Linked DNA regions of Homo sapiens. The protein of the gene in region 2 purifies or fractionates together with the protein of the main gene of each other region. This does not show direct contact. Each region holds a gene or a part of one and is shown on either strand. Other genes may lie near its edges.

Region 1 (3,500 bases), on a different chromosome or scaffold from region 2:
TAAGTGAATTTTAATTTTTAAAACTGTTGCTTATCCAAGATGTGAGTTCTGCACTATTTATATACTTTAAAAATGTTTTTGTTGAACTATCAGTTTTCATTTTTTCTGTTTTTGTTCAGTGTAGAGCATTTTAAAGCAAATAAAAGTGAGTACAAATAGTTAAGCTCACTGCAAGTAGTCACAATATTTACTATATCATATATCCATGACACATCATCGTTATTACCAAAGCATTACAGTAAAACATGTTTTGTATTTATTGTAATTTTATCAGGTGTGAAAAGAACAAACATAAAAAGGGTAAATCTCTATTTGCATTCCCCCAGCATCTGTGACCATGAGCAGCTAGTTCAATCTCGTTCTGATGGATAGAGAGCAGACCCAAAGGATTAGCTGGTTTGTTTAGTCTTTTGAACTTGTTCCTTAAGAAGATTTTTCTCCCCTACCTTGAAGAATAGATAACAGCACTAGGCAACTGAGAGGTCCTCTGCCGATCAAGTACATCCTTCTTCCCAGTATTGCTTATGTCAAAACAAACCAATGGTGATAATATTTTCCTCCTCTGGTCCTTGACTTCAGGGGATGATATTTTATACACAAATTCACTGAAGCACCATATTCTTATAGTGTCATTTTAATCTACCTGACCAAAATCTGTTTTGAGACAATATAACACCAAGTCAGGGTTAGGCAGGCTAAGTTTTAGTCTTTATGCTAATTTGTTAAATGACCTTGGGTCAATTTATTGCCATAATGGAAAATCAAGCAATTCTATAACTTTAGCCTGCCTCCTTTTTTTTTTTCTTTTTTAGCTTTTTTCTTACATTTTTTAAAACATTTTAAGCCTCATGAAATTGCCTTTATTATTTTCATTTGTAAGGTTAAAAGTTTAAAAATAGGCTATAGGTCCCAGCTACTTGGGACGCTGAGGCAGGAGGATCACTTGAGGCCAGGAGTTCAAGGCTGCAGTGAGCTGTGATCACACCTGTGAATAGCCCCTGCCTTCCAGCCTGGGCAACATGGGTAGACCCTATTTCAAAAAAAAAAAAAAAATTAAGTTCATGGCCAGTCTGGGCAATATAGTGAGACCCCATCTCTTTAAAAAAAAAAAATCCACTTTTTAAATAACTTGAGTTTTAGGATTTGTACAAGCCATTACCTAAATAAAGTGAAAAGTTGAAGGAATTTTGACAAAGAAGAGGAGGAAAGATTCTTTATAAAAACTCTTTGATATCTTTCAAATGTAGACATTGTATAAATGCCTTGCTATAAAAACAAGACCAGGTGTTCTAACTCCTATAATTATAGTTGTATATATAGTTATGTGGTTATGTATATAGCTTTCCATATACATGCAGACTCCTGCCCTGGATATATAATAGAGCTTTTTCAAACATGCACAGCAAAATAATGTTGTTTCTCTCCTAGAGGCAAAGTTTAGTATAAGAGGTACAACTTGTGACTTGGATCTTCTGTTGGAACATTGAGAAGCTTTGCTAACACGGGGTTCAAGAAAAAGAGATCAAGGAAAAGGCAAACAAAAGCAATAAATTACTATTGAATGCTTTTTGTCATTTAGACAGCTGTGTTTATATCTCATTCATAGATAGATTAGCATGGTGGTTTCCTGTGTAATGACTACAAACATCCAGTTGTACTCGTTTACTTTGACCAGGTTAGGTTGGTTTTCTATACAGATACCTGGGCAACCCTTCAATAGCCTCTTTCCCAAGGCAGCAACTTACATGGAAGCCACTGGGTGCTTAACAATGGAAGATTCAATCTTTGTTGAATAGAGAGGGTGATTGTAGCACTTGAGCTGTGTCTCTTTTCATTACACATTGGGGAAGTGGGGAAATGAGGAAGCTTTTGGAAGCTAATCCATTTAGTGTGTGTGTTGAGGGTACAGGGAGAGATTAAAAACAACCCAAGATAAGACTCTGTCGCTCACCCTCCCAGAGTGATGTGGCCCCAAGCTGGCAAGAAAACAATTCTAATGGAGACAGGAAATTAAAAGACAGATCTTTCCTCTGCCACAGATTAGCTTTATAGTATCGAATAAAGCAAGGAAAGACCCTACTTTCCATATCTATAACATGGAGAGATGTTAACATGAAAATAGATTTTCTTTTCCCTATCAGTTAAGGAAGGCTTCTCTTTAACACAAATGACCACTGTCTTTTGCTTGGTCTCCACTTCTTTAAGGGAAATATCTTTGGAAATGGCAATCCATGGGAACGTTTCACAAATACTCTGTCATCGCTTATGTTTCTTGAACCACCTAGGTCTGTACTTGAGTTCATACTCTATCTGGTAGTTGAGCGCTTAGGAGTGCTTAGCTAAATAGATGCTCTGTTGTTTGAAAAGTCCACCTACCCCTATTTCTGTGGCGGGCTGGTCACTGTTGTGTGTCTATGTTTTACACTGACTGTGCCATCTCTAATGTTCTCCATTCCTGGACTTTTAGGATCACCAGCCTTTTGCAAATGCACACGATGTGCTAGCCCGCTCCCGCAGTCGAGCCAACGTGCTGAACAAGGTAGAATATGCACAGCAGCGCTGGAAGCTTCAAGTCCAAGAGCAGCGAAAGTCTGTCTTTGACCGGCATGTTGTCCTCAGCTAATTGGGAATTGAATTCAAGGTGACTAGAAAGAAACAGGCAGACAACTGGAAAGAACTGACTGGGTTTTGCTGGGTTTCATTTTAATACCTTGTTGATTTCACCAACTGTTGCTGGAAGATTCAAAACTGGAAGCAAAAACTTGCTTGATTTTTTTTTCTTGTTAACGTAATAATAGAGACATTTTTAAAAGCACACAGCTCAAAGTCAGCCAATAAGTCTTTTCCTATTTGTGACTTTTACTAATAAAAATAAATCTGCCTGTAAATTATCTTGAAGTCCTTTACCTGGAACAAGCACTCTCTTTTTCACCACATAGTTTTAACTTGACTTTCAAGATAATTTTCAGGGTTTTTGTTGTTGTTGTTTTTTGTTTGTTTGTTTTGGTGGGAGAGGGGAGGGATGCCTGGGAAGTGGTTAACAACTTTTTTCAAGTCACTTTACTAAACAAACTTTTGTAAATAGACCTTACCTTCTATTTTCGAGTTTCATTTATATTTTGCAGTGTAGCCAGCCTCATCAAAGAGCTGACTTACTCATTTGACTTTTGCACTGACTGTATTATCTGGGTATCTGCTGTGTCTGCACTTCATGGTAAACGGGATCTAAAATGCCTGGTGGCTTTTCACAAAAAGCAGATTTTCTTCATGTACTGTGATGTCTGATGCAATGCATCCTAGAACAAACTGGCCATTTGCTAGTTTACTCTAAAGACTAAACATAGTCTTGGTGTGTGTGGTCTTACTCATCTTCTAGTACCTTTAAGGACAAATCCTAAGGACTTGGACACTTGCAATAAAGAAATTTTATTTTAAACCCAAGCCTCCCTGGATTGATAATATATACACATTTGTCAGCATTTCCGGTCGTGGTGAGAGGC
Region 2 (3,500 bases):
CAGACGTCGTAGCTCGCCAAGTTCTGCGGGTGGGAGCTGCGTCAACCTATCTGGCCCAGCCCTTCCTTTGGGGGGCCTGGGGGAGGATATGGCCCCGGATAGGCACTGACAGCAGGGATGGGACCTGGGGCCCAGGGTGTTGGCAGGACGCACCTTGGCCTCGATGCCGATCTTCATGATGGTGCCCGAGATGGTGAGCACATCGCTGGTGACGAGCAGGATGTACCAGCCATTGACAAATTCCAGCCGCTCCCACAGGCTGATGACCCGTCCCCGCTGCCGCCACATGAACCCCACAAACTCCTGCAGAAGGCAGGCGGGGTGAGGGCCTGACCAGGCACAGGACCCTCAAAGCCCTGGCTTTTATCGCCCCAGGGCCAGGCGGGGAGGACACCAGCACACATGACGCAGAAGCCTCACGTTCTGCAGCAGGAAGCCTCGAAGGAGTGAGCGGGCGCAGAGGAGGAAGGACAGGGAGCAGGTGAGGATGACCACCACGTCAAACAGGAGCCGGAAGCTGTTGTCTCCTGCGGGGAGGGCAGAGCGGGTAGGGCCAAGGATGGCATGGAGCCTTGGGAGGCTAGCATTGGTGCCAGGCCAGGCTGGAGACCTAGGGGGCTGCACGGCTGGTTTTGGTTGGTCAGTGGGCTCAGGGCTTGCTTGGGGTGAGTCAAGAACCCCGGTCAGTGCTGGTCTGGGGCTTGGGGGATCTCAGCACAGGACGGGGTCCCTGGTCTGTGCTGATCTGAGGCTCAGCGGATTCCTGGGGAGGTCACGGCCCCCAGGCAGCGCTGATCTGGGGCTTGGGGAATCCCAGGACAGGCCAGGGCCCCTGGTCAGTGCTGGTCTGGGGCTCAGGGGCTCACCGTGCTGGAAGACACTGGGGTGCTTACACTCCTGGATGTGGGCCTGGGTCTCCAGGCTGATGGGGATCCGCCCACTGTGTGCTTTGTTGTCAAACGTGATCTGTGGGGGCCAGTTGGGGGCAGAGTAAACCTTGGCAGCCCCAAGCCCCAAGGTCCACATGACAGGTGGCCTGACAGACCCCGGGCTCCCTCCCTCATCACCCGCACGCTTGCCCTTGGCCAGTGCTCCCAAGACACTCCCTGACCAGGTCCCTGCCCTGGAACTCAGGAGCCCTGTGGGTTCCCGGGGGGCCTCACCAGGACGCTGAAGGTATAGCAGTCCGGGATCTCATTATTGATGAGGCTCTGGAGGTTAATGGTCTTCAGCCGGAAGTGGATGGTGACATTGACCAGCCTAGGCAGGAGGCTCGGGTGAGGGTCAGGGGCGTCTTCGGGTCCCTTCCGGCCCCAAGTGCCAGCGTCCCCTGCCACGTGCTGACTCTGCAGCTGGCAGGGGAAGTGCTCACCCAGCAGGCACCAGCGCGGGCGGGGGGGCCCTGTCCCCACCTTAGGGAAGTAGTTGCTGGGGTGAGAGTGCCTAGTGTGCTGCCTCCCCCACCCTGGGCCCCCCTCGAGTGAGCAGGCAGTACTTGTGGAATTTGAGCGTGAGGTTCTTGTAACTGGAGCTGCTTTCCAAGAGGGTGAGATCGTCGCTGGGGGGCGGAGGGGGCCGCTCGGGGGGATCCACCTGGATGCAGTCTAAGGACAGGGAGTCAGGGAAGGGCCTCAGGGGGCCGGGGAGGCCAGGCTGGTCTCCCCAGAGTCCCCAGTGGCCTTCTTCCCTGTGCTTCCCCAGGGTTGGGTCATTCCTACAGGCCTGGCACTCTCTGGGCCTGCGGATGTTTTACTGAATGAGCCATATTAAAATATAACATCTGGTGCTTTCTACGTGGCAAGAGTCACACTCACACTAAGCATACTTGTTTTTTTTTTTTTTTTTTTTTTTTGAGACAGGGTCTCACTCTGTCACCCAGGGTGGAGTGCAGCAGCGTGGTCATAGCTTACTGCAGCCTCAACCTCCCGGACTCAAGCGATCCTCCTGCCTCAGCCTCCTGAGTAGCTGGGACCACAGGGGCACGCCACCACGCCCAGCTAATTTGTTTGTGCGTAGAGACAAGGTCTTCCTACGTGGCCCAGGCTGGTCTCAAACTTCTGGCCTCAAGCAATCCTTCCTCCTCAGCCTCCCAAAGTGCTGGTATTATAGGCGTGAGCCACCGTGCCCAGCCACAGCTGTTGATTTTAATCCCAGCAGCTCAGGCTCCCAACAGTGAAGCCTCGTCCTGCCCACTCACCAGTAACCACCATCGGATCAATGTCAAATGTGTCGTTGGCCGGGTCCACGTGGCCTCGGTGGTAGTACCGCTGGCAGAGAGCAAGCCCTGAGCCATTGGTCCAAGGGTCACCCCCACCACGGACATACGCATACCGGCCCAGTGACACGTCAGGCAACGCCAGGTACTGTGGGCAGAGAAGGGGAGGGCCTGTGAGTCCGGCCCGCTCTCTGCAGCCCACCCACCTGCACCTGCCCGCCCACCAGCACCTGCCCGCCCAACTGCACCTGCCCGCCCACCTGCACCTGCCTGCCCACCAGCACCTGCCCGCCCACCAGCACCTGGTCCACAGCATGGAAGATGGCCTGGTACAGCTGCTCCCGCGTGTAGGCTGCGAAGGTGTCATCCGCTCCGTCCGAGTAGCCCAGCAGGAAGAGGTGTCGGAAGGCGATGGTGTTCTCTTCCCGGAATGTCACAGCCAGCTGATTACTGAGCCCAAACAGGATGAGCTGGGGAGAGGGTAGTAGAGGTTGGCATGGCTAGGATGGGGGTTGGGGTGTATCTCCCTCAGGGCACAGGCCCTGGAAGAGGACAGGGAGGGCCCTGCAGATGTCCACTGGGGTGGGGCAGGGCCCTGCTAACTTGGGCCACAAACACGGATTTCACTTGTGCATTTCTTTGCTTTGATTAATTTCACCCCACCTCCTGGCATAAGCTCCATGCCACGCCCACCACTGTGTCCTCCCCCGTACAACACAGGGTGGGGACTCATCTATCTCACTGCAGGGACTAACGTTCATTAAATGTTTACTGGATGTCCGATTCTGTGTTAAACCCAAACTTTCAGGGTAAGTACCATGACTGGGTCCCTTTTCTTTTCTTTTTTGAGACAGAGTCTCACTCTGTTGCCCAAGTTGGAGTGCCATGGTATGATCTCAGCTCACTACAACCTCCACCCCCTGGGTTCAAGCAATTCTCCTGTCTCAGCCTCCTGAGTAGCTGAGTTACAGGTACCTGCCACCAAACCCAGCTAATTTTTGTATTTTTAGTAGAGACGGGGTTTTGCAATGTTGGCCAGGCTGGTCTCAAACTCCTGGCCTCAAATGATCCACCCAACTCAGCCTCCCAAAGTGCTGGCATTACAGGCATGAGCCACCATGCCTGGACAATTGGGTCCCTTTTCAGAGGGAAAATTAGAGGCATGGTGACATGCTAAAGTCAGCCCAAAACATGAAGTAAGCACTTAGGGCAGTGGCTGGGTCTGATTCATCTTGGGGTTCCCAGAGCCCAGCACAGGGTCTGGCATGGGGGAGGGAGAACTATC
Region 3 (3,500 bases), on a different chromosome or scaffold from region 2:
TAGGTAGAACACAGAGAATAAGCTTAGTGCAGGGACACTATTCTGTATACTATAATGCTGGATACATGTCATTATACATTTGTACAAACCCATAGAATGCACAACACCAAGATGTGTGCACTCTGGGCTCTGGATGATGATGATGTGTCAATATAGGTTCATCAACTGCAACAAATGTACTCTTGTGGAGGATGTCGATAATGCATATGTACATATGTAGGGACGCAGTTATTTGAGAAATCTCTAGACCTTCCTCTCGATTTTGCTGTGGACCTAAAACTGCTTTAAAATATGAAGTCTATTAAAAAACAACAAATCCAGATAAACTGACTTAAATCTAAAAAATAAAACTGCAAGATTCTTAGGAGCAAACTTGGGTAGCTATCTTTTAAACCCAGGATAGGGAATAATTTATTTAAAAGGGCATGAAAAGCAATTACAGTAAGTCCTCACTTAACACTGCTGATAGGTTCTTGGAACTGAGACTTTAAGAAAAACAATGTGCTTCAGGTCCTTTAATAATGCTGTTTCGCTCAATATCATTTCTTTTCTTTCTTTTTTTGAGACAGGGTCTCACTATGCTGCCCAGGTTAGAGTGCAATGACACGATTCCAGCTCACTGCAGCCTTAACTCTTGGGCTCAAGTCATTCTCTCACCTCCACCTCCAAAGTAGCTGGGACTACAGGTGTGCATCACCACTTCTGGCTAATGTTTCATTGTTTATAATATCATTTCCTTAGAACACTGATGAGAAAAAAGAAACTGGTTTCATTATAAGTTATTTTGCTTAAAGTCAGTTTCCAAGAACCCGTCAATGACATTAAGTGAGGACTTACTGTATGATAAACAATGGACAAATTTGACTTAAGAATTTTTTTTATCAAAAGATGCACAGCAATGACAAAAACTGTATTTAGGATTCCGAGTTTGTAAACTTCTGAACTAGTAAACTGTTCAGAAGATTAATATTTTGCTTTATATCCAGTATTAAATCTGATCAACTCCAGCATTTTAATGGCAAGCTATGAAAATACCTAAATAACTGACTCACATAATCTTACGGAATATACTGCCCTTTAAACAAAAGAATAAAATATTATTAATGACTAATAATAAGTAGTTTGCAACAGAGAGGTATGGAATTGGAAAATAAGCAACTGATGAAGTGTATGTATAATTTTTGCTATTTCTTTGCTTCTGAATTTACTCATTAACTAAATCAACCTAGCATTTGGGTGCCTAGCATGTGTGAAGCAATACAATATTTTATACAACTTCCTATGGCTGTTCATTTGGATAGTTTACAAATCCCCAGGCCATAAACTATTAATATAACTTTACCCTTTCTATACCAAATGTACAATAGATATTAAATACAAGCCTGTTGATGATAACGATGTAAATTATTCCAAATATTTGCCAAAGAAGGTAGAGGCATTTAAAACTGTCCCTCCCACACAACTCCATAAAAGAAAGCGAAAAAGTTAGGAACTGAAAGAAGACATTCACAATGTACACAGAGGATTAACATAAGCAATATAAAGAACTCTTATAAACTAGTAAGAAAAACAAAAATAGGCAAGAGACATAAATAGGAATTTCACTGAAGAAGCCACGTAAAAAGGCCGACAAACATAAAAAGAAGTGTTCTACATCAGTGATAACCAGGAAAATGCGCATCAAGACCACAATAAGGCAACATTTTACACCCTTATGATTTGTAAAACTTAAAAAGAGAATATCAAGTGTTGGAGAGGATGGATAACCAAAGGATCTTTTATTTCATATATTGCTAATATGAATATAAATTGGTGCAACCATATTGAAAGTTCTGCATCATCTCTTAAGTTGAACATTCACCTACCCTGTGAGGCAGCAATGCTACCTCTAGGTATATAATAGGAACTGTGGCACATGCACAGTAGGAAACATGCAGACTGTCCATAGGATCTTTGCTTATAATTACAAACAAAACAAAACAAAAAATGGAAAATAACTGCCCAACAAGGGAGAGTGGATAAATATCCAAATATCCACCAAAGTAGAGTTAATGAATATTTTACTCAATGAAATATTATATAGCAATTTAAATAATGACTATAGCAACATGCAAAAATGTGGATAAATCTTATTTATAACAGGTGAAAAATCAAGTTCAAAAAGATTATATTCACAATTCTATACAAACAACTAAAAGATGTTTAGATTTATATGTCCAACTAAACTATACACAGTAGTCTCCTTTTATCCACCGAGAGACCTTCAGTAAATGCCTAAAACCACGAACAGTACTAAACTCTATTTACACTTTTCCTTTAACATACATACTTATGCTAAAGTTTAATTTATAAATTAGGCACAGTAAGCAATTAACAATAACTAATAATAAAATAGAACAATTATAACTATACTGTAATTACAGTTATGAGTGTGGTTTCTCTCAAAGTATCTTAGTACTTATAAATATCTTATAGTACTATACTGTACTCACCTATTTTTGGACCACAGTTGACCATGGGTAACTGAAACCGTGGATAAGGAGGGACTACTATATAAGGAAGAGAATGAACACAGGACTCAAAAATGATGACCTAGATGACAAGAAGGTGGAAATAGACGGATAGAATAGAGGAAAACTATACGTAGGTTAAAGTTCCTAGCTTGTTTTGAGAGAGGGGGAGTGGTGGTCCATGAGTACTTATTAAAATGATTGACAGACAGATAGGTGATTAATCCAATGCAGTGTGCCTGATGTTTAACAAATTTTTTAAAAATCCAAAAGTTGCATAAAATTTGTTCAATGAAAATTCTGAAATGGAGAACAAACACCTCCTTAAAGAATCCCTAAGGTAGCAACTACAGGGAAGGGAAAACAGTATGATTAATGTGTAAAATATATGATACTCAGGCCAGGCACAGACGCTCACATCTGTAATCCTAGCACTTTGGGAGGCCAAGGCAGGTGGACTGCTTGAGTCCAGCAGTTCAAAACCAACCCGGGCAACATGGCAAAACCCCGTCTCTCCAAAAAAATATAAAAATCAACCATGCATGATGGCTCACACCTATAGTACCAGCTACTTGGGAGGCTGAGATGGGCGAATCACTTGAGCCCAGGAGGCAGAGGCTGCAGTGAGCCGAGATCACGTCACTGCACTTCAAGCTGGGTGACAGAACGAGATCCTGTCTCAAAAATAAAAATAAAAATAAAATAAATAAAAAACTCTCAGCACATGTATTGTGTGGTATGTCTTCTATAATCAAAAATAAATTCCAAATTTTGTCATAACTACATTCCATTAAATTAAGGTACTTATGAGCCAGGGCAGTAAAACTTTCACCAATTTGATAAGTCACTGACAAATTTCTAAAAGAGATAAATCCTAACAATATTATGTAAGTCTTGTATATCCACTCATCTTTATGAGGCACTTCAACACTACCTTCACATTTAAGGTGTTTACTGTCATCAAGTACACTGTCCCATGCTTTCTTGATC
Region 4 (3,500 bases), on a different chromosome or scaffold from region 2:
GATCACACCACTGCACTCTAGCCTGGGAGACAGAGCGAGACTCCATCTCAAAAAAAAAAACAAACAAAAAAACCCCACAAAAACAGAAAACCCCAATATTTTATTTATTTATTTAAAAAAAACCCATACAGGCTGGGAACAGTGGCTCACGACTGTATTCCCAGCACTTTGGGAGGCTGAGGTGGGGAGGTGGGTGGATTGTTTGAGCCCAGAAGTTTGAGAACAGCCTGGGCAACATGGCGAAACCCATCTGTACAAAAAATACAAAAATTAGCCAGGCGTGGTGGCGTGCACTTGTGGTCCCAGTTACTGGGGAGGCAGAGGTGGGAGGATTGCTTGAGCCCTGGGAGGCGAAGTTGCAGTGAGGTGTGAGAGCACCACTGCACTCCAGCCTGGCCAACAGAGTGAGACCGTCTCAAAAGATAGATAGATAGATAGATAGATAGATAGATAGATAGATAGATAGATATAGACAGACAGAGAGACAGACAGACAGACACACACACACACATACATAGATACATAGATAGATAAAATAAAAGGCCTGGCACAGTGGCTCACACCTATAATCCCAGCATTTTGGGAGGCCAAAGTGGGTGGATCACTTGAGGTCAGGAGTTCGAGACCAGCCTGGCCAACATGGTGAAATCTCGTGTCTACTACAAATACAAAAATTAGCTGGGCATGGTGGTGTACACCTATAGTCCCAGCTACTTGGGAGGCTGAGGCATGAGAATTACTTGAACCCTGGAGGCAGAGGATGCAGTGAGCCGAGATCACACCACTATACTCCAGCCTGGGCAACAGAGACTCCGTCTCAAAATAAATAAATAAATAAATATTAAAAAATACACAGAGGGCAGCAAAGTTAACTCCCAATATTTTACAAATCCACCTACAGTGTAACAAAGATTAGTACAATTGCAATAGCAAACAATATTTCGGCTGGGCGCATGGCTCACGCCTGTAATCCCAGCACTTTGGGAGGCTGAGGTGGGTGGATCACTTGAGGTCAGGAGTTCGAAACCAGCCTAGCCAACATGGTGAATTCCCATCTCTACCAAAAATATAAAAAATTAGCCAGTACTGTTGGCACATGCCTATAATCCCAGCTATGCAGGAGGCTGAGGCAGGAGAATTGCTTGAATCCTGGAGGCGGAGGTTGCAGTGAGCCGAGATAATGCCACTGGACTCCAGCCTGGATGACAGAGCAAGAGTCCATCTCAAAAACAACAACAACAACAACAGATTTCTAACTAAAGAGAAAACAACAAATATCTTTCTTTTTTTTTTTCTTTTTTGAGACAGAGTCTCGCTCTGCCACCCAGGCTGGAGTGCAGTGGCACAATCTCGGCTCACTGCAAGCTCCGCCTCCCTGGTTCACGCCATTCTCCTGCTTCAGCCTCCTGAGTAGCTGGGGCTACAGGCGCCTGCCACCGCGCCCGGCTAATTTTTTGTATTTTTAGTAGAGACGGGGTTTCACCGTGTTAGCCAGGATGGTCTCAATCTCCTGACCTCATGATCCGCCCGCCTTGGCCTCCCAAAGTGCTGGTATTACAGGCGTGAGCCACTGTGCCCGACCACAACAAATATCTCTTACAGCGACTTTTTTTTTTTTTGAGATGGAGTTTCGTTCTTGTTGACCAGGTTGGAGTGCAATGGCGCAATCTTGCCTCACCGCAACCTCCGTCTCCCAGGTTCAAGTGATTCTCCTGCCTTGGCTTCCAGAGTAGCTAGGATTATAGGCATGCGCCACCATGCCCAGCTAATTTTGTATTTTTTAGTAGAGACAGGGTTTCTCCATGTTTGTCAGGCTGGTCTCCAACTCCTGACCTCAGGTGATCTGCCCACCTTGGCCTCCGAAGTGCTGGGATTACAGGCACGAGCCACTACGCCCGGCAAGCGACTTTTTTTTTTTGAGACAGAGTCTCACTCTGTCACTCAGCAGGCTGGAGTGTAGTGGCATGATCACAGCTCACTGCAGCCTTGACCTCTTAGGCCCAGGTGATCCTCCCAACTCAGCGTCCCAAGTAGCTGGGACTACAGGCATGTGCCGCCACATCAGCTAATTTCTTATTTTTCATAGAGACAGGGTTTCACCACGTTGCCCATGCTGGTCTTGAATTCCTAGGCTCATGTGATTTGCCCACCGTGGCCTCCCAAAGTACTGGGATTACATCATGAGTCACCACACCCAGCTGGTTCTACCCCTTTTTACGCATGCTTTAACACTTCCCAAAACTCTCTTTTCATGTGGTGCAAGGCCAGTTCCCATGGCTGTGGAGAATATAAAAAAAGCACCAGACATCAACATAGCCTTTGATGAGCATCCAATCGAGCAGTGAAGAGGAAATTCCCACAGGCAGCAAGTGGTCAGAGGCAAGCAAACACCCCTGAAGTTCAAAAGAGAAAAGGAGTGCTACTCTCTCCTGTGACTGCAGGAATTTCCCAGGAAACCTTCTATTGACTTTCAATAAAGCAAGAGAAAGCAAAAGAGACTACGTATAGGGGCCGTGATGGCAGCTGCCCATTATAAAAGCAGGAATGTAGGATCCAACTTGAAAAACTCAGTGACGACACCAGATCCTCCCTACTTCAACCTCAGAAGGCATTTCCAAGGCCAAAGAAGAAGTCAGGCTGGAGAGGACCTTCTGTGAGTTACTTTCCTAGAGGTGGTATTGAAGCTTTGGAAGAGTCTGGGCTTGCAAAGCAAGTCAATTAACAGGAGAAAAGTAGAGGCCAAAAGGATATCTTGATAGGTCACTGACCTAAGAAAGCAAGGAGAAGAGGAAATGACTGCCAAAGGCAAGGAAATAGAAAGAATAGGAGTCTTAGGAAAGGAAGTCTCAGGAAAAGAAGGGTGGTGAGTAGCACCATGGCCATGGGGAGCTTGTGCCATCATTCTGTGAACACCCACCTTGTACCAGGCACTAAGGGAGTCACTTCTCTTATGCCCATGTATTTAATCCTCATACCCCAGCCACAAAGCAGGTGGTTTTACAGCTCAATATACAGTTTTCAATTTTCATTGAGACTTGGTCTTAGAGATTATCCAAGAATGGGTTATTTGGCCGGGTGCGGTGGCTCTTGCCTGTAATCCCAGCACTTTGGGAGGCCGAGGTGGGCAGATCACCTGAGGTCAGGAGTTCGAGACCAGCCTGGCCAACATGGTGAAACTCCATTTCTACTAAAAATACAAAAATTGGCTGGGCGTGGTGGCACATGTGCACACGTCTGTAATCCCAGCTACTCAGGAGGCCGAGGTAGGAGAATCGCTTGAACCCAGGAGGCAGAGGTTGCAGTGAGCCAAGATCATCTCAAAAAAGAAAAAAAAGAAAGAATGTGTTATTTGGCTGGGCACAGTGGCTCATGCCTGTAATTCCAGCACTTTGGGAGGCCAAGGCAGGAGGACTGCTTGAGCCCAGAAGTTCAAGACCAGCCTGAGCAACATAGTGAGACTCTGTCTCAACAACAACAACAACAAAAAGACAGGTGTGGTG

The links. The genes of interacting proteins can lie anywhere in the genome.
Region 1: the proteins of MCOLN1 (region 2) and TMEM9B fractionate together in Homo sapiens (co-fractionation; one large-scale study listed by BioGRID). This does not show direct contact.
Region 3: the proteins of MCOLN1 (region 2) and PKN2 fractionate together in Homo sapiens (co-fractionation; one large-scale study listed by BioGRID). This does not show direct contact.
Region 4: the proteins of MCOLN1 (region 2) and PRKAR2A fractionate together in Homo sapiens (co-fractionation; one large-scale study listed by BioGRID). This does not show direct contact.

Annotation. Positions count from the first base shown.
Region 1 is NC_000011.10:8,947,443-8,950,942, reverse strand, and holds part of TMEM9B (transmembrane protein 9B isoform a precursor), read left to right. Parts: intron 1-2,467; coding exon 2,468-2,623; 3' UTR 2,624-3,500. UniProt on the Homo sapiens protein: Enhances production of pro-inflammatory cytokines induced by TNF, IL1B, and TLR ligands. Has a role in TNF activation of both the NF-kappaB and MAPK pathways.
Region 2 is NC_000019.10:7,525,624-7,529,123, reverse strand, and holds part of MCOLN1 (mucolipin-1), read right to left. Parts: intron 2,686-3,500; coding exon 2,518-2,685; intron 2,364-2,517; coding exon 2,198-2,363; intron 1,605-2,197; coding exon 1,496-1,604; intron 1,261-1,495; coding exon 1,164-1,260; intron 967-1,163; coding exon 867-966; intron 528-866; coding exon 421-527; intron 304-420; coding exon 154-303; intron 24-153; coding exon 1-23. UniProt on the Homo sapiens protein: Nonselective cation channel probably playing a role in the regulation of membrane trafficking events and of metal homeostasis. Acts as a Ca(2+)-permeable cation channel with inwardly rectifying activity.
Region 3 is NC_000001.11:88,690,773-88,694,272, reverse strand, and holds part of PKN2 (serine/threonine-protein kinase N2), read right to left. Parts: intron 2,550-3,500; exon of another isoform or gene 2,493-2,549; intron 1-2,492. UniProt on the Homo sapiens protein: PKC-related serine/threonine-protein kinase and Rho/Rac effector protein that participates in specific signal transduction responses in the cell.
Region 4 is NC_000003.12:48,767,875-48,771,374, forward strand, and holds part of PRKAR2A (cAMP-dependent protein kinase type II-alpha regulatory subunit), read right to left. Parts: intron 1-3,500. UniProt on the Homo sapiens protein: Regulatory subunit of the cAMP-dependent protein kinases involved in cAMP signaling in cells. Type II regulatory chains mediate membrane association by binding to anchoring proteins, including the MAP2 kinase.